4 separate regions of the Homo sapiens genome follow, and all the other regions are linked to region 3. The links come from fine-mapping of genetic effects on gene expression. A gene starts in region 3. Each other region holds a variant in brackets. All regions are shown on one strand. Distances are between the middles of the regions.

Region 1 (8,146 bases), 68 kb before region 3:
AAAACCTAATTGCTAGTTCTGTAAATACACTGTCTAACATATTTGGGGTATTAAAGTAAAATCAAAATAAAACAAATTGTTAGCATTTACATTTAACTTTAAGCTAAATTTAGAAATAAGAGAAATTACATAAATCCTATGGAATATATACCACTTCCTTCCAGAAGACTGGCTTACCTAACAGGAATAGTATTTCTCTCCTGTTTGCCATAAAACAAACTCAAAAAATTAATTTTGCTAACAAAAATAAAACACTTCTACACCAATATTACAAAGTCTTTAAAGTAGTATAATAATTCTGTAATTATAACTCTACTACTAATGATTATTTAAATAGTAACATGATGGACAGACATTTTCAGCAACTCAACTGGTTTCCATAAAAGGAAACCTCCTACTTAAATGTCCTTCCTTAAGAGATTATTTAGGATATTATGTCTTTAAAATGAGTTATATTTTCAAAAATAGTTTGGCTTCAAACCACTTCCAAGGATTTCTTTCATTTGCAGGTTTAGTACCACAAAAAAATATAAAATATCTTACCATATCCACCAAGGCTACATAGAGGAACATGCCTGCAGTGACTGCAAAGATCCAAAGTGTGATGTTATTGGCATACTGACCAACAGCTGTGCCTATGAGCATGCCTATGTAAGCCATCATGGCAGAGAGGAGGTTGTATACAATTGCTTGCTTTACAGTCATGCCTGCTTTAAGAAGAACTGCAAAATCTCCTGCAATTAAGAAACAATGGGAATGTTTTAAAACCACAGGATTTAAAACACAAATCTGAAAGGAGAAAACAAATAAAATCAGCATTAAAAAGATACACACTTTTAATAACAGTATTTTATGTGATATATAAAATATTTTACTTATTAAACCATAATGCATGCAAAAACTTGGATGAATCTCAAAGGCATGATACTGAAAGATGTCCATCTGAAAGGTTATATATCTATTCTGAAACAGACAAAACTATAATAATGAAGAACAGTTAGTGGTTGCCAGGGGACAGAGATGGTGGAGAGCTGCGACTCTAAAGGAAGAGCACGGGGCAAGGGTTGTTGGGGGTGACAAAGCTACTCTGATCCTGATGGTGGCAGTGATTACAGAAATCTATATATATGTTAAAATTCAAAGAACTGTACTCACAAAAAAAGTCAATTCTACTGTACAACTTAAATGTCAAATTTTTACAAAAGAAAAAAACATGGTCACCGCTCTTCTTGTAACCAACAATCAAGACCTCCCTGCTCGAACTTCTACCCTTTCTTCAAAGGGAAATGGCCTAAGGAAGAACAGAGGTAACAGGTGCTTTAAGTATATTTTATGCTATGGTTACAGTTATTTTTTTTTCCCAGAAAGAAAAACTTTAATCCTGAAAATTCTAAAAATGTAGTAAGAATGAAGAGCTCTTCCTACCACTTTTCCGTGCTTCTACAATGATGCACATAAATATCTGGCTGAGGCTCCGAAGAGCATCGACAATGCTGAAAATAGAGCAAATGCCAGGTTCTTATTAAGCCATACTCCAAAGTCTGTTTCTAACTGTGCTGATGAAGAATGGTGACACTGGTGACTGTGAAATCATCCATGACCACAGAGCTGATGTAAGACAAAAACTCACAGGAGGGAAAATACTGAAATGCTTTTTCTAAGGATCCTCAATGGACTCTCCTCCCGCCACCCCCTCCCTCCAAATAAGAAGAAAGGCACTTTTCTTATTCATCTGTCTAAAGTTGGAACATTATCTGCAAGCTTGACTAGTGCCTATGAAAAATAATGAAGTTGGAACATTAGGGGGAAAAAAATATTGCTCAGAGAAGTGTCAGTGGAAGGACAAAATGATGCTAGAGATAATAATAGTATTGAAGCTAATGGGTCGAAAGCAATAGCTTGTTCCACCTTGAAGAGGTATGAAAGAAAAAAACCCATTAGCTTTACATACTATAATAATTTTGTTTCAGTTACTACATGAACAAACATCTAATCAATTATTGAACACTCAGCATATGCAAGGTGCGATACAGAATACTAACTGGGCTTGTTTCTTTCCCTTAAGGATCTTAACAGCTACGTATCTAAAAATACATGATCTATTATTCTTCTATACCTCTCATGGTTACAAGGTTCATAGTCTATAACAAGGAGAAGTTAACAATAAAGAAATTACTGCAAGGTTTATTTCTACCTTCCAACAAATTGCTACAAACTAAACACTGCAGCATTGTTTTGGAAAGTTAAGATAATGTACCTAAGGAGATTATCTACCAATGGTTTCTAAGTTGTAATTGTCCAGTTTTCACCTAATGCTATTCTCCTTACATCTTTTCTCCTCTGATCCTAAATACCTTAATTCTCCTGCTGAGACCCGGATTTAATATCAGCTTTTATCTCTTCTCTCTCCTGGAGTTTCGTTAATTTTCTCCAGTCTTTCTCAGCTTTTTCTCTGTGGAAAGAGCTCCCTAACTTCCCTAACAAATTTCCTCTCCTTGTTTTCAATAAATCACACACCAACTGTGCTAAAGAGGCAATTTCATTTAGCAGGTTATGTAAAACAAACTGAGACTACAGAAGTGTCTTTTAGATTACAAAATGCATTGCTTCCTTTTATAATTTAATAATGCGTTTAAAAATGAGCATTATTTAATACTCAATGAACAACGGTGTCATGGGTACAAAATACACCAACTTTGTTGCCATAGCAAGATGGTTTAAGTTCCTTCCTAAGTAACAACCAAACAGCATGAATTAACAAATCAAGATTCAAGGCGAACTATTTTCATTTAATACTTTTAAAAACTGTGGTATAATTACACAACTATTTCATTTTTTAAAAATGTAGACTTCTATGAATTTGGACAAACACATACACCCTATAACCATAAACACCATTAAACTCTAGAACTTTTTCATTACCCTTCCAAAATTTTTTTAGGCCACTTGCCCTTAGGCAACCAACAATCTGCTTTCTGTTCCTGTAATTTTGCCTTTACCAGAACATCATCTAAATGGAAGCACACAGTATGTAGTCTTTCAAGTTTAGATTTTGTTCACTTAGAATAATGCATGTAAGACTCATTCGTGTTACTGTGTATATCAGAAAATTATTTTATTGCTCAGTAATATTCCATAGATGAACCATAGTTTATTTATCTATATTCACCAGCAAAGAACATTTAAGTTGTTCACTGTTTTT[G/A]GCAATTATGAAGAAAGCCACTGCACACATTCATAAACAGGCTTTTATGTCAACATAAGTTTTCATTTCTCTTGGGCAGACACCTATTAAGTGGGGTCACTGGGCCACACAGTTAAGCATATTTCTAATTTTATAAGAAATTGCATCCCCACCAGCAATGTATAGGAGCTCTAGCTGTTCCACATCCTTGACAGCCCACAATTTGAAATCCAGCATCTGAAATCTCATCTGTATACTTTCTTCAGTGAAACATTTGTTCAAGTCTTTTTGTCTATTTTATTTTGTTGGGCTGTTTGTTTTACTATGATTGAAGTCTTTTGTCAGATATGTATTGTCCAAATATTTTGTCCCAGTTTGTGGCTTCCCTTTTTGTTAACTGTCTTTTGTGAAGAGTTTTTAATTTGTAAGAAGTGTATTTTATGACTGTTTTCCTTAATGGAGTATGCTTAGTGCTGTATCTAAGAATACTTTGCCTAACCCAAAGACACAGAGATATTCTATATTTTCTTCTATTTTTAAGAATCTCCATTTAGATTACCTACTTTGAGTTCATTGTTTTTTCTATAGTGAGATATGGGTCAAAGGTATTTTTCTTTCTTCCTTTTTTTTTAATTGCATGTAGATGTCCAATTGTTACAGCGCCATTTGTTGAAAATACTATCCCATCCTTTCAACATGGAATTTTCTTTGTACTTTTGTTGAAGATTAATTGCCATATATGTGAGGACTCTTTGCTTTGTTCCACTGCTTTATGTGTCTACTCTTTCACCAATTCCAACTGTTTTGATTACGGTGGCTTTATAGTAAATCTTAAATCAACTTTGCTGCCCTTTTGCAAAATTCTACTGGCTATTCAAGTTCCTTCCCCTTTCCATATAAAATTTTTAAAAAAGCTGTTCATCTCTGCAAAAAAGCCTGCTGGATTTTTTACTGAGAATGCACTGTGTCTATAGGAAAAAATTAACATCTTAACAATAGTCTTCTGGTCCCTGAACCTGGTATAGCTCTTCATTTAAGTCTCCTTTGGTTTCTTTTACTGATGATTTGTAGGTCTATGCATATTGTTAGATTTAAGCTAAATATTACATATTTTTGATGCTATTATAAGTAGATCCTTTTAAAAATTTTATTTTCAACTGTTGATTACTAGTATATAGCAATACAAATGATTTTTGTATACTTATCTTTGTATCAAGTGAATTATTTCATTTTAAAATCTATCTTGGTTGTAGTCTTATCTCAGGTTATAAATTCTCAAAGGTATCTGCATATTTTTCTCTTTTTCCTCATTTCCCTTCTCAGTGAGAACCTGTATAAACATTTTAAAACTAAGTCAAAGGAATCCTCACAGCAGGGATTTATAGTAAACATGCAAATCTATTCATCTTTTGATAAATCAATATTCTTTCCTTCCTGCTGACAAGGGATATCATTAGCACAATGAATGAGGTGTGCCTGCCAAAGCTGTTAAACTAATGAGATCCAATGCTACAGATGTTAACATCTGTTAACATCCACTACTGAGATTTTTTAAAACATGTATATATTTTAAGGTTCTTTATTCTTGTCTTAAATAATGGTTGTATACATGTTAAAATTCTACATAAATGTATACAATGAATGTTCAATTTCCTGTGGACAATTTAACACATTATGAAAATCTTATTTTAAATTTCTATGTAATCCTTAATTTGACAGAAAGGAAAAATGTACAACACTATAACCTCTCTTAATTGAGTCTTAATAATATGGCTACATATTTTTTTCTTTTTCAACTTTTATTTTAGAAGCATGGGGTACATGTGCAGGATTGTTACAGAGGTATATTATGTGATGCTGAGGTGTGGGGGTATGACTGGTCACCCTGGTATACTACACAATAGTACCCAGTACCCAATAGGTAAGTTTTCTAACCCTTGCCCCATGGCTGTATTTTTTTTTTTTAATCAAAATGTTATTTCCTTGAAGTTGAAACACATTACTCAACATCAAGAAGAATGTTTGGGAAATTGTGATAGACCAAGATGTCAAAATGGAAGGTGACCCACTCATATCCCAACATCCACAAGAATAATTCTGCATCCATCCACAGTCAAAAGCCTCTCTGTGGGAGTCTCAGAATTCCGGCAGGAGTTTGTGAAACCCTGGTGGAGTCCAAGACTCTGGGGCTGTTCTGAGAGTGCAGACGACACTCAGGTGGTTGATCTGTCCTGAGTTCAAACCTGGAAGCGGCTGTCTTCCTCCTGCCCTCTGGATGGTCCCCAACATTACATTACCTATAGATGGCCTCCTCCTACTACAGGCTTTTCTGTAAATTATTCTTCAAATGCTTATACAGTTCCTTATTGAAGGAAGGTGGAAAACAGTGAAGAGATAAGACAAAGTAGTATTGTAACTTAAATTCAGCTACATAAGTTCGGCAAACACAGAAAAGAGAGTAGTGACTTAGTAATTCAGGCAATTTAACCCATTACCACACCAGAGAGCAAACACAAAATGAGATGTGAGTTTGCTATTTCCTCAAATGCTTTCAATTTCTTCATGTCTCTTACAGTCAAATTCCCTGAACTATATGTTATTCTATGGTTCTAAGGATATGTCTTTACGTATCACATTCCTAAACACAACTACAAAAAACACCTGCAGAAACTGCAGAGAGAAAAAGGGGTAAGTGCTAAGAAGGTAACCATCATTAATCTCTAAAACAACTTGTTTTCAATTCTGTGTCTCAGTGAATATACCACGGGAAAAACAGCAATCTGTTCAGAAAGGGAACACTAGAACTTGGAATTACCAACTGAGGGTCAGTCTCCATGTATTGCAATGTAATTGGAAAACATGTTTTTCCTCCAAGGGTCTGAGGTCAGTATGGAAATCTCAGAATTGTTTTAAGAATTCATAATGAAAAATGTAACAGGGCAAAATAGGTTTTAGATCAAATAAATTATCCTGAAATGTGACATACTATACTACTTTGTCAACATCTTAACCTAGAAAGTGGGAAGTGGACTTCTCCCTGGCTCTATCTGCCCATGCTTCTAACTCAACCTATAGAGGAATGATTTTCCCTGTGCTTGGGAGTTCTGAGGAAGAAGCTTGTATGCCTTTCTCCACATCCTGTTCCTCTCCGAGTAAGAATAGATGATCTGATCAGAGTAGGGACACTGACCTGGTCCTATTGTACAAAAAGTGCCCTTTGCTGTGCCTTAAGGCAAAAACTAGGCTCCACAATCATATTTTTACTTCCTTTATTTATGGTCCCTAGACCACTTCCTAACTTGTTGATAGATACAAGGACCAGAGCCCTTTCTGTCACCTCCAGAAGAGGAAGCTGGGTCATTTCTTTACACTGTTTCTTCCCTAGTAGCCTATCCAGCTACAGTATGGTATAGTTTACATCAATTTAACATTAGGAAAAATGCACATTTTCTAAAAGCCCACTCCTTTCCCTCTAGCAAAATTCAGTATACTCTGGCTTGACATATCTTCTCATAGCAGTAGCAACATCTCAGCCTCTGATTTGTGGGATAAAACAGGTAGACATCTGAGGTCTGAATGTCTCACTAGGGGTTCCTGGTCCAAGCAGAGTTCTCCGCTCCAGTTTTTTACCAGAGCTCTGCATTGGGTATCAAGGGCTTCCCTAGCTATTAATGTATGTAATGCATTTGTTCTACATGTGGTTATCAGCCCTTGTGTGTCACTCCTTCAATGAGAAATTGCAGACAGAAAAAGGGTGGTAAGAAGGTAACCATCCTTAATCTCCAACTTGTTTTCAATTCTGTGTCTGAGTGAATCCTTCAAGGTTATGGCAATTCAGTAAAACCACACTTAAACTTGAAGTAGCCTGACACTCCATTTACCAGGTAGTGGGTAGATGAACAGGAAGGAAAGTTGGAGGTTTTTCTAGTATATTATGGAGGTGTATGCGTGATTATCCAAGTCTATTACTAAAAATAGTTTTTAAGTGAAAGATTAAATATGAGGCAACATGTTAACTCATATATAAAAACTGATAGCCTTGATTTGTGGAGTTAGGCTAACAGCAGTATGTGATAGACCAACAGCAGTATGTGATAGTTAGAGAAGAGCATAAGACGTCGTATCTGTGCATTAAAAAACTACAGTTTAAGAAATACGGCATCTAACAAGAAAATGGGTGAAGGACCCCGAGAAAGCAAACAATAAAACTAAGAGGAAACAGTAATCCAAGGCATGAGGTAAAAGACAGTAATAAAGTTGAAGATTCTTAACATGATAAACTAGGAATAGAAGTATTTGGGCCAGCCATGTAGGAGAATGGTATAAACAAGGAAACAGATTCAGGCACCCACACTACACATTTGGTGAATTGCATTTAGTTGAAATGAAAAACATGTAACAGGATGTACTGCAGGTAACACTAAAAAGCTAGGTAGAGAGAAGAAGTGAAGGTCATTGAAAGTGTGACTCATAGCTGGGCGTGGTGGCTCACACCTGTAATCCCAGCACTTTAGGAGGTTGAGGGAGGTGGATCACTTGAGCCCAGGAGTTCAAGACCAGCTTGGGCAACATGACAACACCCTATCTATCAAAAATACAAAAATTAGCTGGGCATGGTGGTGCACGCCTGTAGTCCCAGCTACTCAGGAGGCTGAGGTAGAAGGATCATTTGAACCCAGGAGGTCAAGGCTGCACTAAGCCGTGATCAAGCCACTGCACTCCAGCCTGGGCAACAGAGGGAGACCCTGTTACAGGGGGAAAAAAATATATAAAATCCAGCTCTATTTTATATGTCAGGAAAGCTACTGGAAGACTTTAATTACATAAGAACATCACATTTAAGCAGATATATCTGGCAATGATATACTACAACAGAATAAAACCAGAGATATAAAGACTATGAAAACTGTCTAAGCAAAAACACCACAAAGGCGGTGATGACTTGGTCTGGATAAAGGATAATGG
Region 2 (8,146 bases), 21 kb before region 3:
ACCTCATGATCTACCCGCCTCGGCCTCCCAAAGTGCTGGGATTACAGGTGTGAGCCACCGCGCCCGGATACTTAAAAATCTTTACACTGATTCTGATTCCTTAATGTATTCTGTTCATGAACATTACCTGATATTTCATAGGTAAACATATGGAAATAAGTTTAAATATGATTAATACTCCACTGTTACTTATCCTGTTTTTAAAATGCACCACAATTATGTGAGAATTACGAAGCAGCTATCGGACATCTTTTTATACTTACTTCATGATGATGGTCATCTTCATTTAGATCTTTTCTCAAAGAAATTATTGCATTATTTTTAACATGTGGTGCTTCTCTCTTTCTAGTATGTCGAAGTTCACCTTCATTATCAGGATCAAGATCTTGGTGTCCACGACCAGGATCATGACCATTACGTTCTGGAAGATGTACATGAGAATGACCTGGGTTATGTACACGATCAGGTTTGTGGACCCGATTATGCTCATACTGTTCACCCTGATCATGGTTAGGGGGAAAACCTGGTGTAATAACCTCAGAATTTTCATTACTTTTCCTCCCTTTTTTCTTCCTCTTTCCTTTCGGTAGTTTAACATCAGATTGTTCCTGGGTTTTATTGGTCTCTGTTGAAGGTTCATTGCTAGGCTCCCCACGCTCACTGGGAGTAATGGAATCATTATGAAAATGGTGAGTGTTGTTATGATCAAGATGATGATGCAAACGATGGTGATGACGTAGGCGGTGATTATGGTCATGCATATGTTTATCATCAGATTTTACAGACACTTCAACTGTCTCTTTCTCTGGATCACATTTATGGTTTCTTTTTGTGGATACACTGGTCACAGTTTGATTTTCTGAATTTAAATGATTATGGGAATGCTGGTGGTTATGTGAGTGAAAATGCTTTCCCTCTTGAACTGCCAAAATATCTAAATGAGAAACATGATCGTGGCCAAGATCCTCATGATTAATCTCAACTACTTTTCTCTCTCCAAGGCCCAAGTTTGTTAAAAGTTTCTCCAAACCAAAAAAGGATAATCTTCCATTTTCACCATAACGCTCAAAAAGTTTTTCAATATAGTATTTTTTTTCATTTTCAGCAGCTTGCTTTGAAAATTTGCTTGGCTCCAATTCTGTCATTCCACGATGCTGTCTGTGAAGCGCTTCAGGGCCATGGTCATGTTCTTCATGGCAATGGTTGCAATGATGAAAAATAAATGTCAGCAAACAAATGAGGCAAAATTTTGTGTGCATATGTACCTTCATTTCTATTTTTCCTAAAGAGATTTAAAGAGAGAGACAAGTATTAGTTTCTACCTAGACACATTCAAAACAATCTAATTCTCTGGAAGTTGCCAATCCACTAAAAAAAGTTTTACTCCATTTCCTTCATGATAAAATATGTTAAGAACCAGAGAAAAGTGAAACTGTCATTATTCACAAATGGTAGAATTAATTATGCAGCATGCCTTAAAGAATCTTTAAGAATAAGTTAGTTTAGTACAGTTACTGAATATAAGGACAGTAATAAATTATATTCCTATATATCAGCAATAATTAGAAAATAAAACTCAAAAATAGTAACATTTACAACAGTAGCAAATAGCTAGGAATGTATCTAACCAAAGACATACAAGAACTTTACATAGAAAAGAGAGAAATTATTGAGAGAAATATTATTGACAGAAAATTACTGAGAGAAATAAAAGACCTAAATAAACGGATGGCTATATCATGTTATGACTGGATAAGCTATGTATCCAATACAACCCCAGTCAAAATCTCAGAATTTTGTGAAAACTGATTAACTGTTTTTAATATTGATGTGGAAATAGAAAGGGCCAAGAACGGCTAAGATGTATTCCTTGAGGAACAAAATTGAAGCATTTACTCTATGAATTATCAAAGATGCTGTGGTATTTGGTGCAATAACAAACAGACTAAAGGAACAGAAGACAAAAGCTAAAAACCGGAAAGGATGGTCTTTTCCTTGGTGCTTGGTCAATTAGGTTTCCACACAAAAGAAAATAATAAATAAAATCTGACCCTTACCTCACACATCATTACAAAAATCAATTGCTAATAGCTCCTGAACATAAATCTGAAACAAGAAATGCTAAAATGATAAAGTGTCCAGAACTGTCCAATTCAATGGTAGCCACCACTAGTCACATACGGGTACTTAAATGAACTAAAATTAAATTTAAAATGCAGCCTCTCAGTCACCCTGACTATGTTTTAATTGCTCAACAGCCACATGTAGCAAATGGCTAGTATGTTGGACAACGTAGACGCAGAACATGTCCATCATTATAGAAAGTTCTATTGGACAAGCATACTTCAAGAATCTAGAAATATAATAAGAGCCAATTATGTAATTCTGAAGTTTTCCAGAATAGATGAAACTAATTTCATACTATTCTATTTAACCCATTATATCCAAAATATTATAATTTCAACATCTAATCAATATAAAAATTATTAAAATATTTTACATTCTTTTTAATACTATGTCTTTGAAATCTGTCATGTATTTTACACTTACAGCACATCCTAATTCAGTCTAACTGTATTTCAAGTGCTCAACAGACGTGTGGCTACTGGCTACTGTACTGGAAAGCGCAGATCTTGAAGATTTGGGAGACTAATTTTAAGACCTTCGAGATAGAACACAAAATTGATAATATATTACACTGAAATTAAGAATTTATGTTTCATCAAGAGACATCCAAAAAAAAAAAAAAAACCTAACTAAAAAGGCAGGCTGCAGACTGGGAGAAGACTACCACAATGTATACTCAAAAATATATAAGGAACTTCTATAAATCAATATGAAAATTACAATAAGACGACCCAATGAAAAAATGAGTAGGTAACTTGAACAAGCACTTCATAACAGCAGCCAAACTCCTAAAAAGCAAATGAAAATATGTTCAGCTCAGAAGTCTTCAGGAAACCAAATTAAAATCACAATTAGATACCACTATATACCCCATGAAAATAACTGAAATATAAAATACTGCCAATATCAAAAGTAGGCAAGAATATATAGAGTTAAATGGAACTTGTGTACTGACAGTAGTATTAGAGATTGTATCTTCTGAAAAACTGTTTGGCAAGATCTGCCAGAAGCTGAATGTAAGCCTATGTACTTACACAGCAATTTTAATCTGGGGTATATGCCCAACAGAAATCCATGTACATGAATACCAACATGAATATTCACGTAATCATTATTCATCACAGTCAAAACTGAAAAAAGGCTGGGTGTGGTGACTCACACCTGTAATTCCAGCACTTTGGGAGGCCAAGGCAGGCAGATCACCTGAGGTCAGGAGTTTAAGACAGGCCTAGCAAACATGGTAAAACCATTTTTACTAAAAGTACAAAAATTAGCCAGGCGTGGTGGCATGTGCCTGTAAGCCCAGCTACTTGGGAGGCTGACACAGGAGAATCACTCGAACCCAGGAGGCAGAGGTTGCAATGAGCCCTGATCGTGCCACTGCACTCCAGCATGGGCAACAGAGACAGACTCTGGTCAAAAAAAAAAAAAAAAAA[AT/T]CTGATAAAAGCCTAAATGTTAATCAACAACAAAATGATAAATGAAACAGAAAAATCTATCACACAGGAATAAAAATGAAATTACAGCTTCATGCATAGATGAATTTCACAAATATTGGGAAAAAAATGACAAACACCAAAGAAAGCAGTATAATTCTTATATAAAGGTAAAAAGGAATAAAACTAAACTTTGTGGATTTTTTTTTGTTTGTTTTTGAGACAGGATGTCACTGTGACACCCAGGCTAGAGTACAGTGGCGCAATCATAGCTCACTGGAGCCTTAAACTTCCAGGCACAAGAGATCTTCCCACCTTAGCCTTCCAAGTAGCTGTGTGTGCCACCACGCTCAGTTTTAATTTTCTTCTTTTTGGGGTCTTGCTCTATTGTCCAGGCTGGTCTCAAACTCCTAGCCTCAAGCACTCCTCCCAACTCAAATTCCCAAAGTGCTAAGATTGCAGGTGTGAGCTACCATACCTGGCCATGATTACTTTTTGAAAGAGAGATAGAGGGTAATAATTGGGAGAAGACCAGAATGGAGGGGACTGCAAAGTGTAATGGTCTTTCCTGATATCAGTAGTAGTTATGTAAATATGTTTACTTTGTGATAATTCATGGCACTTATGCTCTGTGTACTTTCTGAACACAGTCTATTTCAATACAAAGTTTTATAAAAATCAAATTTTCTTCACTGAAAACCAATCACAAAATGTAATTATAAACAACATTGTATGGTTTCTAGAATTAATTAGAACAAGACATATAAAACCACTAAAAGGAAAAACTTATTAAGATGTTATTGAAGGACAGCAAAGAACTGAAAAACCTGGAGAAACACATCATCTACATGAATAGATGGGATATACTGCATAAGGTACATAAAATCTTCCCAAGTGTATATACAAATTTAACTCAATGCCAGTTAAAATCCTGGTAGCTGTTTAGTTTTGGTGAGACTTCATAAGCACATTCAAAAACTCATAAAAGCAAAAACCCAAGGACAATCAAGACAATTCAGAAGATTAGCAAGGTATTAAAGACTTCTTTTTATAAAATTATACTAACGAAAATAACATAGAACTAGCACAGGGGTAGATAGGCCAGTGGAGTGGAACAGAGTTCTGAAAGAGCATCAATAATATTGACTGTGAAAATGTTTCTTCCTCACACTACACACAAAAGTCAATTCCAAGAACATTAAAAACCTATATGTGAAAAGCAAAATTATCAACAAGTTCTAGAAGAAAATGTAAGAGAATGTCTTTATGTCTTTGGGATAGGGAAATATTTTTTAGGCAAGACACAAAGCACATATCATGATGAAAATTTTTGATTAACTAAATTCTTTAAAAAATACTCTATAATAAAGGACACTATAAAAAAAAAAAAAGCTTATAGGCCAGGCGCTGTGGCAGGCGCCTATAATCCCAGCTACTCAGGAGGCCGAGGCAGGAGAATTGCTTGAACTCGGGAGGTGGAGGTTGCAGTGAGCCAAGATTGTGCCACCACACTTCAGCCTGCCAGCCTGGGAGACACAGCAAGACTCTGTCTCGGTGGCGGCAGGGGAGGGGGAAGCTTATAGCAAGCCATATACTAGAAGATATTTGCAATGTGTATATATAAACAATGTATATAAAACATCAGTATCCAGAGTATATAAAGCACATATAGTAATAAAAAAACTCCACTACTACATAGACAACTATGAAAAGAACATAAAACAGGTTGGTAAAACAGCAACATGATGACTAATAATCTAGGCAATTCAAATCTAGATAAGGCTCTAAGACAGTAACAGGCAAAAATTAGTATCTCACAATACTAGATGTTAAGTAAAGGTCTAATATAAAGAAACAAACTACCTTATGCGTCTGGTGGAAGTATATATTGGTACAGCCATTTTGGAAAGCAACTTGACATTTACTACAGCCAAATATGAACACACTCTACAGCCCCCAAGTTCCATTTTAATTACCCTTGCACTTAGGCACGCAAAGACACATTCAAGAATCCTTACTGGGGCCAGGCATGGTGGCTCACGCCTGTAATCCCAGCACTTTGGGAGGCCGAGGTGGGTGGATCATGAGGTCAGGAGATCGAGTACATCCTGGCTAACACGGTGAAACTCCATCTCTACTGAAGATTCAAAAAAATTAGCCAGGCATGGTGACGGGCGCCTGTAGTACGAGCTACTCGGGAGGCTGAGGAGAATGGCATGAACCCGGGAAGCGCAGCTTGCAGTGAGCTGAGATCACGCCACTGCACTCCAGCCTGGGCGACAGAGCGAGACTATGTCTCAAAAAAAGAGAATCCTTATTACAATATTGTAAATGTTTTTCTAATGTGAACTATTGCAATAACAGAACACTCAACCAAAGTGGGTAAAACAGAGGAAAACTTTCACATAAAAAGAAGTCAGGAGAAATGGGTGATTCTAGGACAGTACCAAAAATCCAAGCACGCTCAAATTTACCCTCAGAGTCCCAAGATAACCTTGCATAATCATATTCAAAACTGGAAGATTTATCTTTTTTAAAATACAATTTTTATTTTTTTTCCTCCTCAGAAATCTTGTTTGGATGGAAGGTTCATCTTCATGTCTCTCTTTTTATCCAGGGAGAAAAATATTTCCCTCAAGCCTCTCTTTACGTATCTTTGATCAGTCAGGTCTCTACCACATGCCCATGCTAAAGCCAATCACTGGTTTACAGTAGTGTATAGTAATGTCCCAGGCCTTCACATTCACTCACTGCCCACTCACTGACTCACTCACAGCTGCTTCCAGTCCTGCAAGCTCCATTCATATTAGTGCCCAACACTGGTGTACCATTTTTAAAATCTTTTATACTGAATTTTTACTGTACCTTTTCTATGTTTAAACATACAAATATTTACTATTGTATCACAACTGCCTACAGTATTCAGTATATCAACAGGTTTGTAGCCTAGAAGCAACTGGCTATACTCTATAGGTAGGTGTATAGCAGGCTACACCATCTAGGTTTGTCTAAGTATACTCTATGATGTTCACACAATGACAAAATCACCTAAGCCTGCACCTCAGAACATACTCAGCATTAAGCAATGCATATGACTGTATGTGGGAGAGGCAATACTCACAGAACATGGGGGAATAAGAGGCCTCAAGAAAAAAGGAGGTAAATAAAGAAAAGCAGGCCGGGTGCAGTGGTTCACACCTATAATCCCAGTACTTTGGGAGGCCGAGGCGGGTGGATCACCTGAGGTCAGGAGTTCAAGACCAGCCTGACCAACATGGTGAAACCCCATCTCTACTAAAACACAAAAATTAGCCAGGCCTGGTGGCGGGTGCCTGTAATCTCAGCTACTCGGGAAGGTGAGGCAGGAGAATCGCTTGGACTCAGGAGGCGGAGGTTGCAGTGAGCCGAGATCATGCCATTGCACTCCAGCCTGGGCAACGAGAACAAAACTCTGTCTCAAAAATAAAATAAAATAAGGAAAAGTGGTCAGCTGTGTAACCATTATGTTGCCTGCTACAACCTAAATGCTCATCATTAGAATAAATAAATATGGTATATTTATTTAAAGATTACACTGCAGTTATAAATGTGACTATGAAGGACTTTGTATTAACATGCAATAATCTCAGAAATATAATTTTTAAAATTGCAAAAAGATACATGCTGTATAATTTACAGACAATCTTAAAACATGCAGAATTACTTATTTGGGGGTATATATTCATGTAGCAAGAGAACATGGGATGATTACATTCTGGAGTCATTATCTTCTCAGAAAGGGAAGGAGGGAAATCAGCTGATAGAGGAAGTACACAGATTTAACTGCATTTGCAGTGTGTTATTTCTTTAAAAAAGGGAAAGGGATCTAATGCAATATGATAAAACATTTAATATTTGTTAAAGCAAGATAATGGGATTCAGGTGCTTGATTATTCTTCTGTGTACTTTTCTATAAATCTGAAAAGATACCACATAACCTGCATCAGTGGTTAATCAAACTGTGGTTGTGAGAGCAGCATAAGCTTGCTAGAAATCTGAAAGGCAAATTCCTGCATCCCACCCAGACCTACTATAACAGAAACATTAGGGATAGGACCCAGCAATGACTTATCCAGCCTTTCTAGTGAGTCTGATGCAAGCTACACAAAATTTGAGAGTGCCTATTTACACATATAAATTAGCAATGACTTATCCAGCCTTTCTAGTGAGTTTGATGCAAGCTAGACAACATTTGAGAGTGCCTATTTATACAAATAAATTACCAAACACTTCCATTTCTCTAAAATGATACTTTGGGCTGGGCACTGTGGCTCACGCCTGCAATTCCAACACTTTGGGAGGCAGAGGTTGGCGGATCTTGAGCGCAAGTTCAAGACCAGCCTGAGCAACATGGCAGAACCCCATCTCTACAAAAAAAATACAAAAAAAATTAGTTGGGCATGGTGGCGTGTCAGAAGCCAAGGTAGGAGGATCATCTGAGCTTGGGTGGTCAAGGCTGCAGTGAGCCCTGATCTTGCCACTGCACTCCAGCCTGGGCAATAAGAGACATTGTCTCAAAATAAATTAATAAATAATAGTTTAGTCA
Region 3 (8,146 bases):
TAATGAGAATTACACTTACATAAAAGATGAATTATAAAACTTCCGTTATAAAGGAAAAAACTAGTTGTTTTGATTCCCTACATTTCTCTTCCATTTCCCATTGTGTACTTTCTTTTGCAACTATGACTGGTATCACTTTAAAATGCACTAGTAATAATGTCCTTCTGATACTAAACTCATGGCATTTCCAATACTGAGGTAAGCACTATATAAACACAAGCTGACATTTTTAGCCTAACCATAATGGTTAAGTTTTGATTCACTCAATTAGCATTTTAAACTTAATTAAAGAGCTTGACAAGCTCTGCATATTCATGTGTCATAAGCAGTATGTGACAAAAAAAACTGTGCAGTATGTACCCCCTCACGAAATTTAGTTTGGCAGGGAAAACAAGATGCACATGTTATTATAAATTAGAAAATGGAAGAGAAGTAGAAATAAATCCATGAGTATTATATATAAGTAACAGAACAAAAACAACAGGATAATGTATCCCCCCCAAAGGCCCAGTAGAGACCATCAAAGCTCATTCTGGGGGTAGTCAAGGAGGGAGTGGAGGGAGAAAAAGAACGCAGACCTTCAACCACTAATGAAAGAACTGAAACATCTGTATGTAGAAAAAAGGTAAAATCAACTCACTATCATCTTCAGCCTTTTGGTTATCTCATTTAATGGTCACAGTTAAGTCCGTGAGTAGGGTTTTTGTACTTGAAGTTCAAATAGAAGATTAAGATAAGCAACTTCCTCAAGGTAAGCAAACTAATTAATAGATCAAGGTTTTGAACTTTTAAAATTTCACTCCAAAGCCCTAAATTTTTTCCAGTATTGGTCAACACTGAGGGTAGAAGGGTTGGGTGAACAGAATATTAACAAGGTAAATTTCTCTAATCAGAAGGAAATGATCATCCCAGATGCTGAATTTTCCTTGCTATAATACTACATCCTATCTTCTCCAAAAATCACTTTTGAAAAAGGCACACCCCCTAGATTAGTACTTGCATACGACACTTGAGGCCTACTCAAAGTACTTCAAATCAGGTGCTCAAAAAAAGGGAAGGACCGTGTTAGCTTTTAAGCAGTTAGAATTTAAATTGGTAACAGTAAGAACTAGTATAGGTTATCATGCAATCTATTATTGATGTCATTTCCTATGAGGTCTTCCCCAACCACTTTTTTTAAAGTAGCACCAAAGTCATTCTTGCACAGGGGTTCTTATCCAGGCGTCTATGTACGGAACGCAGAATGTTTGTAAATATGGACAGGTAAAAAAAGAAAAAGATTTATCTTAACCTCTGACATTTACTTATCTCTTCAGTTACGAATGCAGGCAAAAATTACAGCGATGTGAAATACCTGATAGCAATTTTAGATTAAATTTAAGCCAAATTCTTTAAAGATCATTTACAGTCCTCACTAATGCTTTACTAAAATATAGATGTCATATTTAATATCTTCATTATTTCATAACTGGTTTCTGTTGCAATTCTATGTATTTCATACATTTAAAACCATCATTCTGTGGTTCATCACATAAAAAAGTTAAAAATCCATACCAGCACATCATTGTTTTATTTTCTTCACAGCACTTATCACTGATATTATATGTTTCCAGTAAGGAGCCACTGGAGTAACCAGTGTCTGCAGAATGTGCGTTGTCTGGCATGGATCCAAGATCTAGAAAAAGTAACTGACTCATATTAAGGTACTCAAATATTTGTACAATAGAGTCCTAATACAAAACAATACACAGGAGTCTTGACTTGAGGCTTTCAATTGCATACTAAGTTAGAAGGAACTAAGTTCTACATCTCCAGCTTTTCCATTACTTGCTTTTTCTTAATTATGTACAATTTAGATACACATCCAAAAAGAAAACAAATACAAACCTATTCTAGTTTTGCTCCAAGAATGACTCAGTTCCAATGTAAAATTAGAGGACTTAACAGCAAAAGGCATAAATAAAAGTTTCTTTTAAAAAACAGTATAACCTACCATACTTTTTGTTTTTTTCTAACATGTGTTTTGTGTCACTGTTACTTAGAATAGGTACTCGAGTGAACGACCCTTCCAACGGAGGGCTTCAGGTTCTGCAGTGATATTTCTTCCTCGTGCCAGATCCTTAGTACAGCCCATGTGGACAGGCTCCCACGTGAACATTTCTTTACAGAAGCCACAGGAAGACCTTGAACGTCATGTTGCTCGCGCCCTGGCAAGGCCCCCGCCCTTCTTAGCTGGGGCGTTCGAGGGACCCCAGGAGAGGCAAGGAGTTCAGCAGATTCCCAGACCCGGAGAGGCGGTGCGCGAAGGTTCCTCTACGCGATCCCCCTGCCGCGCCCCACATCGCTCTCCACCTAAGGGCTTTCCGGAACAAAGCCGTGCGGCCGCGCCACCTCCGGCCCACCCGGCCTGTCCCACCGACCCGGCCCCACCCTCACCCTCAGCTCCAGGGACCCCCAGCAGGCCGAGATCTTCACACCCCCGCGCTCCGCCTCGGCTTTTCGGTTGGTCCGGGAGAAAACTAGTAGGAGCAGAGGCGCCGCCGTCCGTTAGCCTCGGTCCGGAACAGCGGTGCCGAGGCTCCATCCCGGGGTCCCCTCGCCCCATTACAGACCAGAGAGAAGGACTGGAGAAGAAAAAACCGGGGCGCTGGTCGCCAAGCCCCCGAAGACCTGCCTACAGATCCCCAAAGCCTCGCCCGCCCGCGCCTGCGACGCCATCCGCGGCCGGCGCGCAGCCCCCTAACCGCCGCCACCCGCCCAGCGGTCACTCCCCCACCCCGGGCGCGGCCCGCGAGGCTCCGCCAACCTCCACAGGAAGGTGAGGGGGGCGCGAGGCTCCGCACGCGAAGTGGATGCCGCCGGCTCCCGATCCCGCGGCCCGCAGCAGCCCAGACCGCACACGAGGAGCCGCGGCGCCCAACACTCTGCCCACCACGCGCTCTGCTTCGGCTGGCCGCCGCCGACTGCAGCAGCTGCGGGAACCCCAGCGCCCGCATCCCCGAGGGAACCAGCCCCGACTCCCCGGTTCTGTTCTCCCTTTCTACCCCCACGCCGTCCCGGGACTCGCAGTCTCCGCCGCGCACGGGGCCGGTTCTGGGGGAGGGAATGTAAACAAATCGGGGTTTTATAGTTACCTCACACTCGAGTGCCGTGTGCATCTCCTCTCCGCTCGGTACCAAACCCCGGCTGCACCAAATCGTGTATTCACCAAAGCAGACTGCGCTAACTGCGTCGCAGAAACCGGCGCGTCTGACACCCTGCTACGCTTGCGGCGTACAAGGTCCACTCAGCTCCCTGCGCAGCCGCACCCCGTCCGCCTATGGGTGCTACGCTATGGGCGTACACGCGCCACCTAGCTATTCACTTCGGATAACGCCAGTTGCGTAAAGGAGTCGCACTACTCACGGATTCCACATGGATCGTCCGAGGAATAGGAAATTCAAGTCTACGCAAACTGCGGAGTTCCGTGGCTCCGCGCTAGTTTTGTTCCAAGAAAGAACGCCGCGGGGGAGTTGGGGCGGCTTCTTAACGCATGCGTGGAGCGCCCTTTATCATTCGCCTTTTCTCCTGGCTTTCGAACGTCGGTTGCTGAGGCCTTGGGCAAGGCGAATGAGTAATGGAAGCTCTAAACCCAAACGCTTTAGCCAAAAAGCTTCAGAGTGATCAACTGGAATGTTCATCTGTATACGAGTTAAACATCTACGTTAAGTTAACCCCGCCCCCTTTGTTAAAGTAACCTTTTCAGTCTCTTAGGGCAACAGCGAACTTTATTTAGTGCTAAGTGCGAGGTGTTTTGCCTAGCTCCCCTTCCCACCCATTTAATTCTAAAGCACACTTACTGCGGGTCTTCCAAACCTAAAAGAAAAAGTTGAGTCCTGAGAACATGTCACACATGTAGAGAAATTCTCGAGGCTTTTGGCAACTTTCCAAGGTCTTCACTCCTCTACTCCTCAACTGATCGACTATTTCTTAACACTCTATGACAAAAAAATCCCGATCCAGCCAAGCAGTTCCATGGACTTGTGCCTACACCGTGCTCATTCTTGCCCTTTGCTCACGCCATACATCCCATCTAAATTGTCTCCTCCCCTCTTAAGCAACCACCAACCCACATTTTCTTAAAAGGTGACTCTGGACGTCTTATTTTTGCTTCATTACTCTGCTTCCTGGCTCTTACTTAATCCACATGTTGAGGCGTATCTGCATTCCGCCTGGGGTGCCTGTGTTTCTATATCCAACCAGAATCTACTTAACACAGCGAGTTCTGGGGGTGCCTTACTGGTGTCTAGTAGAGAAAATAAAACCATGAACAGCAGTAATCGCAGGCTTGACTGTGTGTCAAGTACTCCACATATATATTAATTTAATCACCATAACACGGTGAGGTAGGAAACTGAGGCACACAAGACTTTAACTTGCCTGGTATCACAGAGCAGGTAGAGAAAAGAGTTGGGATTTCCAAACCCATTCAGTATGGACGGCTAGGTAGTCCCGCTAACCTGCATATTATACCTTCATGAAAGAAGGTTATTTTTTGTTTTGTATCTCTACAAAAAACATCCAAAACAACGAAAATGGTGCTTGATAAATGCCTACTGATTGCCATACGTAGTTCAGAACACTGAACTACTCATATGCCCTTTTCCTTGTTTGGAAAGCCAGAGCATGGACCTCACTCCTGCTTACAAAGGGAGAAGTCCTGAGGTGTGGAGAAAAGAGATTAAGCCTGAGTCCTAGTTTCAAGTCTCACCATTGCCACTAAATGTGAGACAATAGCTGTGGTCCTCAGATTCATTGATAAATTAAGGGGATCGTTTTAAATATATTCTAAGGTTCATCCTAGAACTAAAGTCCTTAGAGTTCATAAAATCATGATAGTACATCCTTTGTGTGCAAAGCATAAGAAGCTTCCAAATTAGCTTGATATTTTATGGCTCATACTTATTTTATTGAACACATTATTATCAACACCCTTAAAACATACATAACCTTTCTTTCAAATATCAATAAGATATAGCGCTTGCAGTCCTTACATTTTAGGGCACCTACACTGCTTTTTTAGTTATGGATATACAAGGCTAATGTTCAGCTGGTACACACAAGTACGGCTGAACCAACTAATCAAATACTGAAATACTTCAATGCAAGTTGGTTAACAGCTGCAACTCTGAGTGGTATCCCCCCATGCTTCTCACCCCTGTGCCAGTCCTTCCTCTCAAGATTCCCCAGACCTCCACATTTTAGGAACTAGTGGGTTAATACCTGGCTAAGATAGAGCCCTTTGGACCCAGCTCTTATTAGTCACTCCCATTCTACTTGGTTGGTGCCTATTCTTTACTAATTGTTACATATTTTAAATGTCATCCCTATAGAAAACTATGTGGTAAGCAACTTGAAAATAGAGACTGTGTCTCCTAACACTTTTTAAACTCACCCAAACATTTATTTACTTTCAAGTGTATACACACTGATTTGGGCAGATTTTCAAGCAAAATTATCAGATAGAATAAATGATTCTCTGCATACTAGCATATTACTTTTCCTACTGAGAAAAGGAATCTCAGAAAATGACTTGCAGGCTTACACAAAATCACCTGCTGAGTCAAATAATGGACACTACAGCAACAATATATGAATTTCATTTTATCTTTACCAGTTTTATATATAAGAAATATGTTAGGGTAAAGACTTTCTAATATGTTATAATCATAAAACTTTCTGAAAGTGTAAGACATTTTCTTTTTCCAGCCACCTCACTTGATTCATAAAGAAGCTCATCTCAACTATAAAAATAGTATAAATGATTTTCAGTACCTGGGGGAAAGAGAGGTACTGAATTATGTGTAAATGGTTTACCTTTCACTGTTTAGCTTATTCATGCTGCTTCAGCCACAATATTAGTTCACATATCTAAAATTTCAAATGTGACCAGTCTACCTTTGTGAGACATGATATAGTAAATCCAAGGGTCTTTTTGCCCCTCAGAGGATTTGAAAAGAACCAACTATTAATACAAAAGAGGAAATAAGAAACCTACTTCATACCCCAATCTTTAGCAGTGGCTGAAGGAAGTCCATGTCATAAACCTGGGTTTCCCTCTTACAGAGGAGAAAATAGTCATCATACACAACAAAATTAAGAGTCTTTAATGAAATCTATAAAGAACATGACTAATTCTGCCAGGCGTGGTGGCTCACGCCTGTAATCCCAGCACTTCGGGAGGCTGAGGTGGGCGGATCACCTGAGGTCCGGAGTTTGAGACCAGCCTGTCCCACACGGAGAAACCCCATCTCTACTAAAAATACAAAATTAGCCAGGCTTGGTGGCACATGCCTATTATCCCAGCTACTTGGGAAGGCTGAGGCAGGAGAATCGCTTGAACCTGGGAGGTGGAGGTTGCGGTGAGCCGAGATCATGCCATTGCACTCCAGCCTGGGCAACAAGAGCAAAACTCCGTCTCAAAAAAACAAAACAAACAAAAAAAAGAACACGACTAATTCTAAGAAATCAGGCCTTTCAAACTCACTTGTTCTTTCCGTGATTCAAGATTAGTAATAACCAATGATAAAGACCCCTTCCTAAATTCATCTCCAGTTTAAACTGTTACTTTTACATGGCCTAAAAGTTTACTTTAGACAAAGCTATGCCTAGAGAGGCTGTGAACCAAAAATAAAATTTTAAGCCTCCCAACTAACTGAATGGTCACTTCTTCTTTGCCAAGGGCATTCCAAAGTTAACCTGAAACACTAGTACCAGGCATGATGGGAATGGATGGTTAAACATGCCTCATTATATTCTCCTCACTTTAAAATTCAGGCACAGGCCGAGTGTGGTGGCTCACGCTTGTAATCCCAGCACTTATGGAGGCCAAGGCGGGTGGATCACCTGAGGTCAGGAGTTCGAGACCAGCTGGCCAACATGGCAAAATCCCATCTCTACTAAAAATAACAAAAATTAGCCAGGCATGGTGGCGGGCACCTGTAATCCCAGCTACTCGGGAGGCTAAGGCAGGGAGACTCGCTTGAACCCAGGAGGCAGAGGTTGCAGTGAGTTGAGATTGTGCCATTGCACTCCAGCCTGGGTGACAGAAGAAGACTCTGTCTCAAAAAAAAAAAAAAAAATTCAGGCACAGATGACCAGTATTAACATTAAAACAGACCTTAAGACTGATGAAAGAGACTTTTTGTAGCAATGATACCAACATGACAGATAGCAGGCTCTGAAAGAATTCTAAGTATTTTTCTCCAAAATATATTTCTTTGACATGTTTTGAAATGGCCTTGCAAAACTGTCTCTTGTGGGAAACATCTACATTCTATAGAGCAGCAGTCCCCAACTTTTTTTGGCACCAGAGACTGGTTTCCTGGAAGACAATTTTTCCACAGATGGGGGTGGGTGGGGATGGTTTTGGGATGAAACTGTTCCACCTCAGATTATCAGGCATTAGTTAGATTCTCATAAGGACTGCACAACCTAGATCCCTCACATACACAGTTCACAATAGGGTTTGTGCTCCTATGAGAATCTAATGCCACCATTGATCTGACAGGAGGTGGAACTCAGGCAGTAATGCTCACTGCCTGACACTCACCTCCTGCTGTGTGGCCCCGTTCCTAACAGGCCATGCACCCGAACCAGTCTAGTGGCTGGGGGACCCCTGCTGTAGAGAATCCCCTTCCCTTTCCAAGTCTCTTCCCTGATCCAGGAGAGAATTAACTGAGTCTGGCGTCTTTTAAAGTCTGGTAAGAAACACAATTTATTCTCTCTGAAGCCTGCTAGGTGGAGGCTTCATCGGCATAATAAGAACCTTGGTCTCCATAACCCCTTATCTTTTTTTTAAAATTTTCTTTCTTTTTTTTTTTTTTTTTAAGATGAGTCTCACTCTGTTGCCCAGGCTGGAGTGCAGTGGCGAGATCTCGGCTCACTGCAACCTCTGCCTCCCAGGCTCAGGCGATTCTCCTGCCTCAGCCTCCCGAGTAGCTGGGATTACAGGCACCTACCACCACGCCCAGCTAGTTTTTGTATTTTGGGGGAGAGACGGGTTTTCTCCATGTTGGCCAGGCTGTTTTCAAACTCCTGACCTCAAGTGATTCACCCGCCTCGGCGTCCCAAAGTGCTGGTATTACAAGTGTTAGCCACCACGCCT
Region 4 (8,000 bases), 210 kb before region 3:
AGTAGAGACGGGGTTTCACCGTTTTAGCCGGGATGGTCTCGATCTCCTGACCTCGTGATCCGCCTTCCCTTAAGTAGTTTAATCCTTGTTAGTTTGACTTCAAATAAATTTGAAATGGAACACTTTTTAAGGAGATGTTTTTATAAGAAGTGAATGTGGTTTTTTTTTTTTACATTACTTATTTGTATAGTATTACTAGATGCCAAAAGAATTGCAAAGCAAATTCTTGAGAGCATAGAAACTATATAAAAATGTATTTAAGCTCTCTTGGGAATAGGTATGTGGATGAGCATTTTCTTATAAGAAGTGGTAGAGGAGGCTCATGCCTGTAATCCCAGCACTTCAGGAGGCTGAGGCGGGAGAATTGCTTGAAGTTAGGAGTTTGAGGATGCAGTGAGCTATGATGGCACCACTGCGCTTCAGCCTGGGTGATAGAGCAAGACCCTTATTTTAATTTTAATATGCAGTTAAGAAACATAGAACACGAGAATGTGCTACTGTGTTACAACCATGTACTACAGAGATATAAATTTCAAAAGGTCTTTTAAAAATCCAGTTTCTCTGGACTTTTTAGATATACAGTTTGAATTCCTAAATCATCACACATTCAAATATATGTCCACGTGAAGATCCGTTCCACTTGCATGTTTTGGCCACAACAAGGTCTCCAAAAGTGATTCTTTGGAAAGGATGATGTAGAGATTCTTATAGCACTCCACAGCAGGTTACCTAATTGCCTGAATGGGACCCACTTCCCAGGATACGGATGCAGGCTTGTGTTTGGGGGCCACATGGGTAATAGAAATGTACTGAGAGCTGGAGAGTGTGGGGGAAGTGAACAGGGAGGATGATGCTGAATTCATTCAAGGAGCATGCCTTAGTCCATTCAGGCTGTTATAAAACGTACCTAAACTGGGTGGCTTGTCAACAAACTGAAATTAATTTCTCACAGTTCTGGAGGCTGGAAAGTTCAAGATCAAGGCACTGGCAGATTTCATGTCTGGTGAGGGATTGTTTTCTAGTTATAGGTGGTGCCTTCTCACCATGTCCTCAAATGGTGGAAGGGGCAATGGGCTCTCTGGCCTCTTTTATAAAGGCACTAATTCCATTCATGAGGGTTCTGCTCCCATGACCTAATTACCTCCCAGAGTCTCCACTGCAATACTATCACCTTGGGGGTGAGGATTTCAACATATAAATTTAGGGGGAACATAAACATTGAAACCATAGCAGATTGCATTGCTGAAGGCAGCATTTTGTCATGGGTGAATCTAACTCACGAGGAAGCATTTGGCATCCTCCACCTCAGTAACTTTGCCCTTGATATTCCTTCTGCCTAGAACACTCTTTCTCTGTTATCTGCAGGCTTGCCCACTTCCTTCCTTCAGATTTTTGCTGAAATACCCCCTTTTCATGCAAGCTTGCTTTGGGCCATCCCTACCCCCCTTGATTTTTTACTGCTTACCTTGCTTTGTTCTTCATAACATTGAACATCACCTGACACCTTCTAAATTTGGGGCTTACTTATTGTCTTTGCAATAATAGAAACTTTATGAGAATAGCAGTTATATTTATGCGCTGGTTTTCCCAGTGCCTGGCACACAGAAAACACTCAATAAATATTGGTGAATGAATGAGTGCATAAAGAGAGGAAGGCAGGCAGGCTTGCTACACATGACATGTTCTGTCACTTGAGATTATACATAACAGTGCTTTCTTCCAATCATGGGAATAGGTTGTTTGTGCTATTGTATATGTGTTAGACATAATTACTTTTAAGAGTTTTTTAGATTCTGTGCTGCTTTAGATGTCAGATTATTGAGTTTTGATAATGGTTGTTGAGCTCTTTGGGCATTTAGTGAGGTTTACTACTTCATATTTATACATACCTATATAAAACATAATGAATTTAGTCCTCAGCTCAAAACCTTGTATTAGCACCCTACTTCATTCAGAGGAATTTCGGATAAAAGTCCAGTGGCCCATGGGATCTGGGATGTGTTCCTCTTAGCCTGTTCCCCTCAGGCTGCCTCCTGCTCTCATCCTCATCCCCCTTTCACCAGCAGTACAGGTCTCCTGGCTATTCTCTTCTGCCTGCAATATTTCCCCCAGATATTGATGCTCTGGAATAGCTCCTTCCCTGCCTTTGATCAAATTCTTCTTTCTAGTTGAAGCTTTTTAATACCACAGCCTGACTCCCCTCCCCTATCCTAGTAGTTCCAGTCTTTCTTATCCTGTCCTATTTTACTTCTTTTCATAATATTTTCCAACGTCCAACATGTTGTAGAATTCATTCGTTATATGTGTTGTTCATCTCCCTCAGATAGCAGGCAAGCCCCATGAGAGCAGAGATTTTCCTCTCTCTTTTTTTTTTCTTACTGCAGTGCCAAGAAGGATGTTTGGTACATTATTCTCAACATCTTTAAAAATATGAGGTAATTGTGAGACAGTAGGTGGGAAGGGATCCCCCGAGAAACTCCAGCCAGCCAGTGCACTGGGGTGGAACCACAGAAGTTCATGCTGTTTGCAGTGGGGAGGAGCCTGGCCCCTCTTCTTCCTGGATGGAACCTGGGATTCAATCTGCAGGGTGGGAAGCACTCTAGAAGGGACGCTGGCCTTGTGGAGAGTCCCTGTTTCCCCCTTTTCTTCACTTTCACTCAATAAAACCTGTTTTACTCACCATTCAAATAGTCTGTGAGGCAAAATTTTCATGGCTGTGTAACAAGGACCCCACCTTTAGCTGAACTAAGGAAAAGTCCTGCAACAATTGAACTTAACACTAATTTGTGCTTTATTTCTGTTCACTCAGAAAATATTTCTTCAGGGTTTAATATATGTTAGAGACTACTTTACATGTCTTTTTCCTTTCCAGACATCATTATCATACTAGATAACCTTATATAATTTCACTAAATGGTTTCTAAGGTATAAAACTGACAACTCATTCCCTTTGGCTTCTCCATGGCTCTGAGACATTAGTTAATGCACGTATCACCTGGTTTGCTTGTTAAATACAGATATTCTGCAAAAACAAGACCCCCAAAATAGATGAATATGTTTCATCAAAATTAAAAAATTTTATGCTTCAAAAAACACCATCCAAAAAATGAAAAGACAATATATAGAATGGGATAAAATACCTGCAAATCATATAAACTGTTAAGTATCTAGTATCCACAATACATAAAGAACTGTTATAACTCAACAATAAAAGACTAATAATGCAATTTAAAAGTGAGCAAAGGATTCAAAGACATCGCTCCAAAGATGATATACAAATGGCCAATAAGGACATGATTAGTCATTAGGGAAATACAAATCAAAACTGCCATTAAGTACCTTTCACACTCAATAGGATGGCTGTAATAAAAAAGATGAATAATAGGCCAGGCGTGGTGGCTCACACCTGTAATCCCAGCACTTTGGGAGGCCGAGGCAGGCGGATCATGAGGTCAGGAGATCGAGACCATGGTGAAACCCTGTCTCTACTAAAAATACAAAAAATTAGCCGGGTGTGGTGGCGGGCACCTGTAGTCCCAGCTACTCAGAGAGGCTGAGGCAGGAGAATGGCATGAACCCGGGAGGCGGAGCTTGCAGTGAGCCGAGATCGCACCACTGCACTCCAACCTGGGTGACAGAGCGAGACTCTGTCTCAAAAAAAAAAAAAAAAAAAAAAAAGATGAATAATAGAACAGTGTTGGTGAGCATGTGGAAGAATTGGAACCCTCATACATAGCTGGCAGTAATGTAATATAGAAAACAGTTTGGTAGGTCATCAAAAGGTTAAAACATAGGGTTACCATATGACCTAGCAGTTCCACTCCTAACTGTGGACCCAGAAGAACTGATACATGTCCATGCAAAAACTTGTACATGAATATTATTAGCAGAATTATTTATAATAGCCAAAAAGTAGAAACAACCCAAATATCCATCAGCTGATGAGTGGACAAACAAAATATTGTAAATACATACTGTGGAATTGTATTCAGTCCTAAAAAGAAATACTCATATATCCTACAACATAGATGAACCTAGAAACATTGTGCTAAGTTAAAAAGTCCATACACAAAAGGTCACCTATGATATGATTCATTTATATCATATATCCAGAATAAGCAAGTTAGTTCCATAGAGATAGTAAATAGATTAGTGTTGGCCAGGGCTGGTGGTAATGAGAAGTAGCTTCT[A/C]TTGGGTACCAGGTTTCTTTCTGGGGTGATGATAAAGTTCTGGAGGGAGATAGTTGTGATGGTTGCACAACTTTGTGAATATTCTGATTCTGTATTCTTTTAAAGAATGAATTTTATGGTCCATGAATTATATCTCAATTTTAAAAGTCTGCAATCAAGACTTTGAGGTAAATAAATTCAAAGCACAAATTACAATATAAATATACCAGAAATTATATCCTTTGCAACAATTTAGATTTATAATAGAAAGTTTTAAGTGTCAACTTTTTAAAATGTGAGAGGTGGTGATAGAATAATGGTTCCTTGTTGGGGAGGGAGGAAAGCAGGGACCAACAGTAGTGAGCATGAGGGAGCTTACTAAGGTGCTGGAAATTTTATATCTTGATCTTGGTGGTGGTTACATGGATGTATAACTGTGTGCCAAAATTCTTTGAGCTGTACACTTAAGATTGTTGTACCTGTATTAGTCCATTTTCATGCTGCTGATAAAGACATACCCGAGACTGGGCAATTTACAAAAGAAAGAGGTTTATTGGACTTACAGTTCCACATGTCTAGTGATGCCTCACAATCATGGTGGAAGGTGAAAGGCATCTCTCACATGGTGGCAGACAGGAGAAGAGAGATTGTGCAGGGAAACTCCCCTTTTTAAAACCATCAGGTCTCGTGAGACTTATTCACTATCATAAGAACAGCACGGGAAAGACCCACCCCATGATTCAATTGCCTCCCACCAGGTTCCTCCCACAACACGTGGGAATTCAAGATGAGATTTAGGTGGGAACACAGCCAAACCATATCTGTACCTTAAATAAGGAAAAAGAAAAAACAAAAAGAAATGGAAAGATATTCCCAGGAATCATCCTCTGTGTTTTTAAGTCAACAGATCCACTGTGGGGCCCAGGAATTTGCATTTTGAATAAGTACCTCAGATGATTTTAATGCAGATGTGTTGACTGTCTTTGAGAAATGCTGCTATAGGTTCTTGCTAAACTGCCAGCTAGATAATAATATACTTGTTTCATGCTTAGGCATTGATCCTGATACATGAAGTTGACTTAATTTAGGAATATTGTCTGAGATCTTAAGTACCTCAATTCAAAGATTGGCCATTGGCATGTATTGGGAAATTAGATTGTCTCACAGAGAAATAACTTTTGAACTGGTTGGAATAAGAAGGAAGTTTAAATAATACCATTTGCTTATGCAGACACTATTAGTGAAAAAAAAAAAGGATAACACTATGAAATCATCAATTTGATAACAATACACTAAAACCACGATTCCTGAACACCATTAACCTTAATGCTAGGGCAATTTGCAGTAATTATCTATTTGAATTCTACAGTGTTTTCACATATTTTGTCATGTTACTTTTTCCCCAAATCTATGAGATTTGCGAGGTAGGTAATACTACTTCTATTTTATAGGTGAAGAAGTTGATGCAGACATTTTCAGTGATTTACTCAAAATGGTAGAGCAGAGTAAGGATCCAACGTTCCACTGACGAAATATGCATTATTTATAGCATATATGTATTAGTTGGCCATTAACAAAATAATACAGACTAAGTGGCTTAAACAACAGAAATTTATTTTCTCACGCTGGCTTGCTAAAGCCACCTTGTCTCTGTGTCCTCACATGGCCCTTCCTCTGTGCATATAAGGGCTGCCCAACAGAAACAAGAACCAGAGAGAGAGAGGGAGAGAGCGCTTTAATGCCTCTTCCTCTCCTTATAAGGACACTATCCTATAAGATTAGGGCCCTACCCTTATGACTTAATTTAACCTTAATTGCTTCCTTAAAGGCCCTATCCCCAAATCCAGTCACATTGAGAGTTATGGCTTCAACATAAGAATTTTGGGGGGACACAATTCAGTCCAAAATAGACTGTACCCCTGGGACACACTTCTTTAAGAAAACAGTTGCTACATGTAGCAAGCCTGATGTTTCTTGCAGTCCCATAACATGTGCATATAACCGGAGATTTATTTTAGTAGATTGCTCTCTGTAACGACTTAAAACAAAAATAATTAACAGGTATCCCAAACAACTCTCCCTCTACCCAAGACATTTCCTGTTCTAGAAAATGTGCTTTTTGAAAAACAAAAACAAAAGCAAAAACTATTGATTTGTCAATAACTTTCAAAATGTTATCTATCTTAGAAAAAGGAAACATCACTGGAAAGGTGTTGGGTACCCCCTGGGTACTGGTGCCCAGCTCTGCTATCCACATCTGAGCAGCCAGCAAAGGCAGTCACTAACTTCTCAAGGCCTTAATTCTCTTAGCATCTCTACATCTGCTTCAGCTCCCACCCCCAAAATTACCTTTCATTGATTGATAACTGACTATAACCTTATTATTCTAAATATAGAGTTAAAATTAACATTTAAAATAACATTATTGTGAATCAGTCCTGATTATTTGGATATACTTTTAATAAAACCTGCAGAAATTTTCTAATATTTTTATTACCTGAGATTAGCACAGATATAATAACACTTTCTTAAAAATCAGAAGAAAGTTTCTAAAGCTGCTTTTTAATTATTATACAGGTCCTTCGAGTGTATTATGACCGCCTTCTGGACAATACAGACAGAAGCTGGCTCATCAACTACATTCAAGAAATTTTGAGAAACTACATGTATGAAGATTTTCATGAGCTTTTTCAGCGTTTGGATTTTGATAATGATGGCATGGTGGAAGCAGATGACTTACGCAGCTTAATGTTTTGTGATTTCCATGATCCCAAGAGGGAGGATACCAACTACAGAGAAATCGCAGATGTGGATAATCTTCGAATGATAGTAGAAATTCACCTAGAAGAATACAACAATATAAGCAAAAAACCCATGAACCTTGTCTTGTTTCGATTTGCCATAGAGCACATCAGCAGAATTTCCAGGATCCTGAAGCAGCCTCGCAGCCATGCTCTCCTAGTAGGGGTTGGAGGGAGTGGAAGGCAGTCTGTCACCAGATTAGCTGCCCACATGGCTGATTATTCAGTTTTCCAAGTTGAAATCTCTAAGGGGTATGATACTACTGAATGGCATGAAGATTTAAAAGTGATCTTAAGGAAATGTGCGGAAGGTGAGATGCAGGGTGTCTTCCTGTTTACAGATACTCAAATTAAAGAAGAGTCTTTTCTGGAAGATGTCAGTAATCTGCTAAATGCTGGGGAGATTCCAAATCTCTTTGCATTAGATGAGAAGCAAGAGATATGTGATAAGATGCGTCAGTTAGATCGCCAGCGGGATAAAACCAAGCAAACAGATGGCAGCCCCATAGCCCTTTTCAACATGTTTATTGATCATTGCCGCAGCCAACTGCATGTGGTCCTTGCCATGAGTCCCATTGGAGATGCATTTCGGAATCGTCTTAGAAAGTTCCCTGCTCTTGTTAACTGCTGTACCATTGACTGGTTTCAGGTATTGTCATGTACATTTTAGATAGACTTCTAGAAATGTTGAATTTCCACTATCATCATGACTTATTTTATAGATTCCCAACCTGTAGTTTACCCCAAAATATTGTTTAGCAGAATCTTCTGATCAGTTATATCTTATGAAATTATAATTCAAGAAATTATAATAGAAAAGTATTTATTAAGAATATATGTGATCACTAACTTCAATATATTATAGGAAGTGTTATGATAAAATTGTGTATCAGAGTCCTGACAGGAAGCACAGAGCAACCTTGAACCCTTCACCGAAGAAAGCATAATGAAGGAACTGTTCACAGAGGGGTAGGCAGGGTTAAGGGAACCAAGAGGGGATGTTGGAACACTCAGGAAGTGGTAGGTGGAG

Direction of the effects. Alleles are on the strand shown, and positions count from the first base shown. SD is a standard deviation of normalised expression in the study named. Not every link is listed here.
For the expression in follicular helper T cells of the gene that starts at base 3,190 in region 3, AT is the high allele of the variant in region 2 and T is the other (large effect, 0.81 SD a copy in Schmiedel 2018).

Evidence for each region. PIP is the estimated chance that this variant, and not a neighbour inherited with it, causes the effect.
Region 1: its variant is the best candidate, but not a certain one, in a credible set for the expression of SLC39A10 in lung (TOPMed, PIP 0.89).
Region 2: its variant is the best candidate, but not a certain one, in a credible set for the expression of SLC39A10 in follicular helper T cells (Schmiedel 2018, PIP 0.67).
Region 4: its variant is the best candidate, but not a certain one, in a credible set for the expression of SLC39A10 in whole blood (INTERVAL, PIP 0.61).

The regions. Positions count from the first base shown.
Region 1 is chr2:195,720,747-195,728,892 of GRCh38, reverse strand. SLC39A10 (solute carrier family 39 member 10) reads right to left here. Exons shown (of 10, transcript NM_020342.3): 9 at 544-734. Among named protein-coding and RNA genes, the nearest start is that of SLC39A10, 68 kb to the right of the region's middle. The variant G/A (reference allele first, on the strand shown) is at 3,203.
Region 2 is chr2:195,673,168-195,681,313 of GRCh38, reverse strand. SLC39A10 (solute carrier family 39 member 10) reads right to left here. Exons shown (of 10, transcript NM_020342.3): 2 at 264-1,282. The coding sequence starts at 1,271. Among named protein-coding and RNA genes, the nearest start is that of SLC39A10, 20 kb to the right of the region's middle. The variant AT/T (reference allele first, on the strand shown) is at 3,564.
Region 3 is chr2:195,652,270-195,660,415 of GRCh38, reverse strand. SLC39A10 (solute carrier family 39 member 10) reads right to left here and starts at 3,190. Exons shown (of 10, transcript NM_020342.3): 1 at 3,135-3,190. RefSeq lists silencers at 2,422-2,521, 2,722-2,841, 2,872-2,921.
Region 4 is chr2:195,863,768-195,871,767 of GRCh38, reverse strand. DNAH7 (dynein axonemal heavy chain 7) reads left to right here. Exons shown (of 65, transcript NM_018897.3): 41 at 6,747-7,619. Among named protein-coding and RNA genes, the nearest start is that of DNAH7, 200 kb to the left of the region's middle. The variant A/C (reference allele first, on the strand shown) is at 4,191.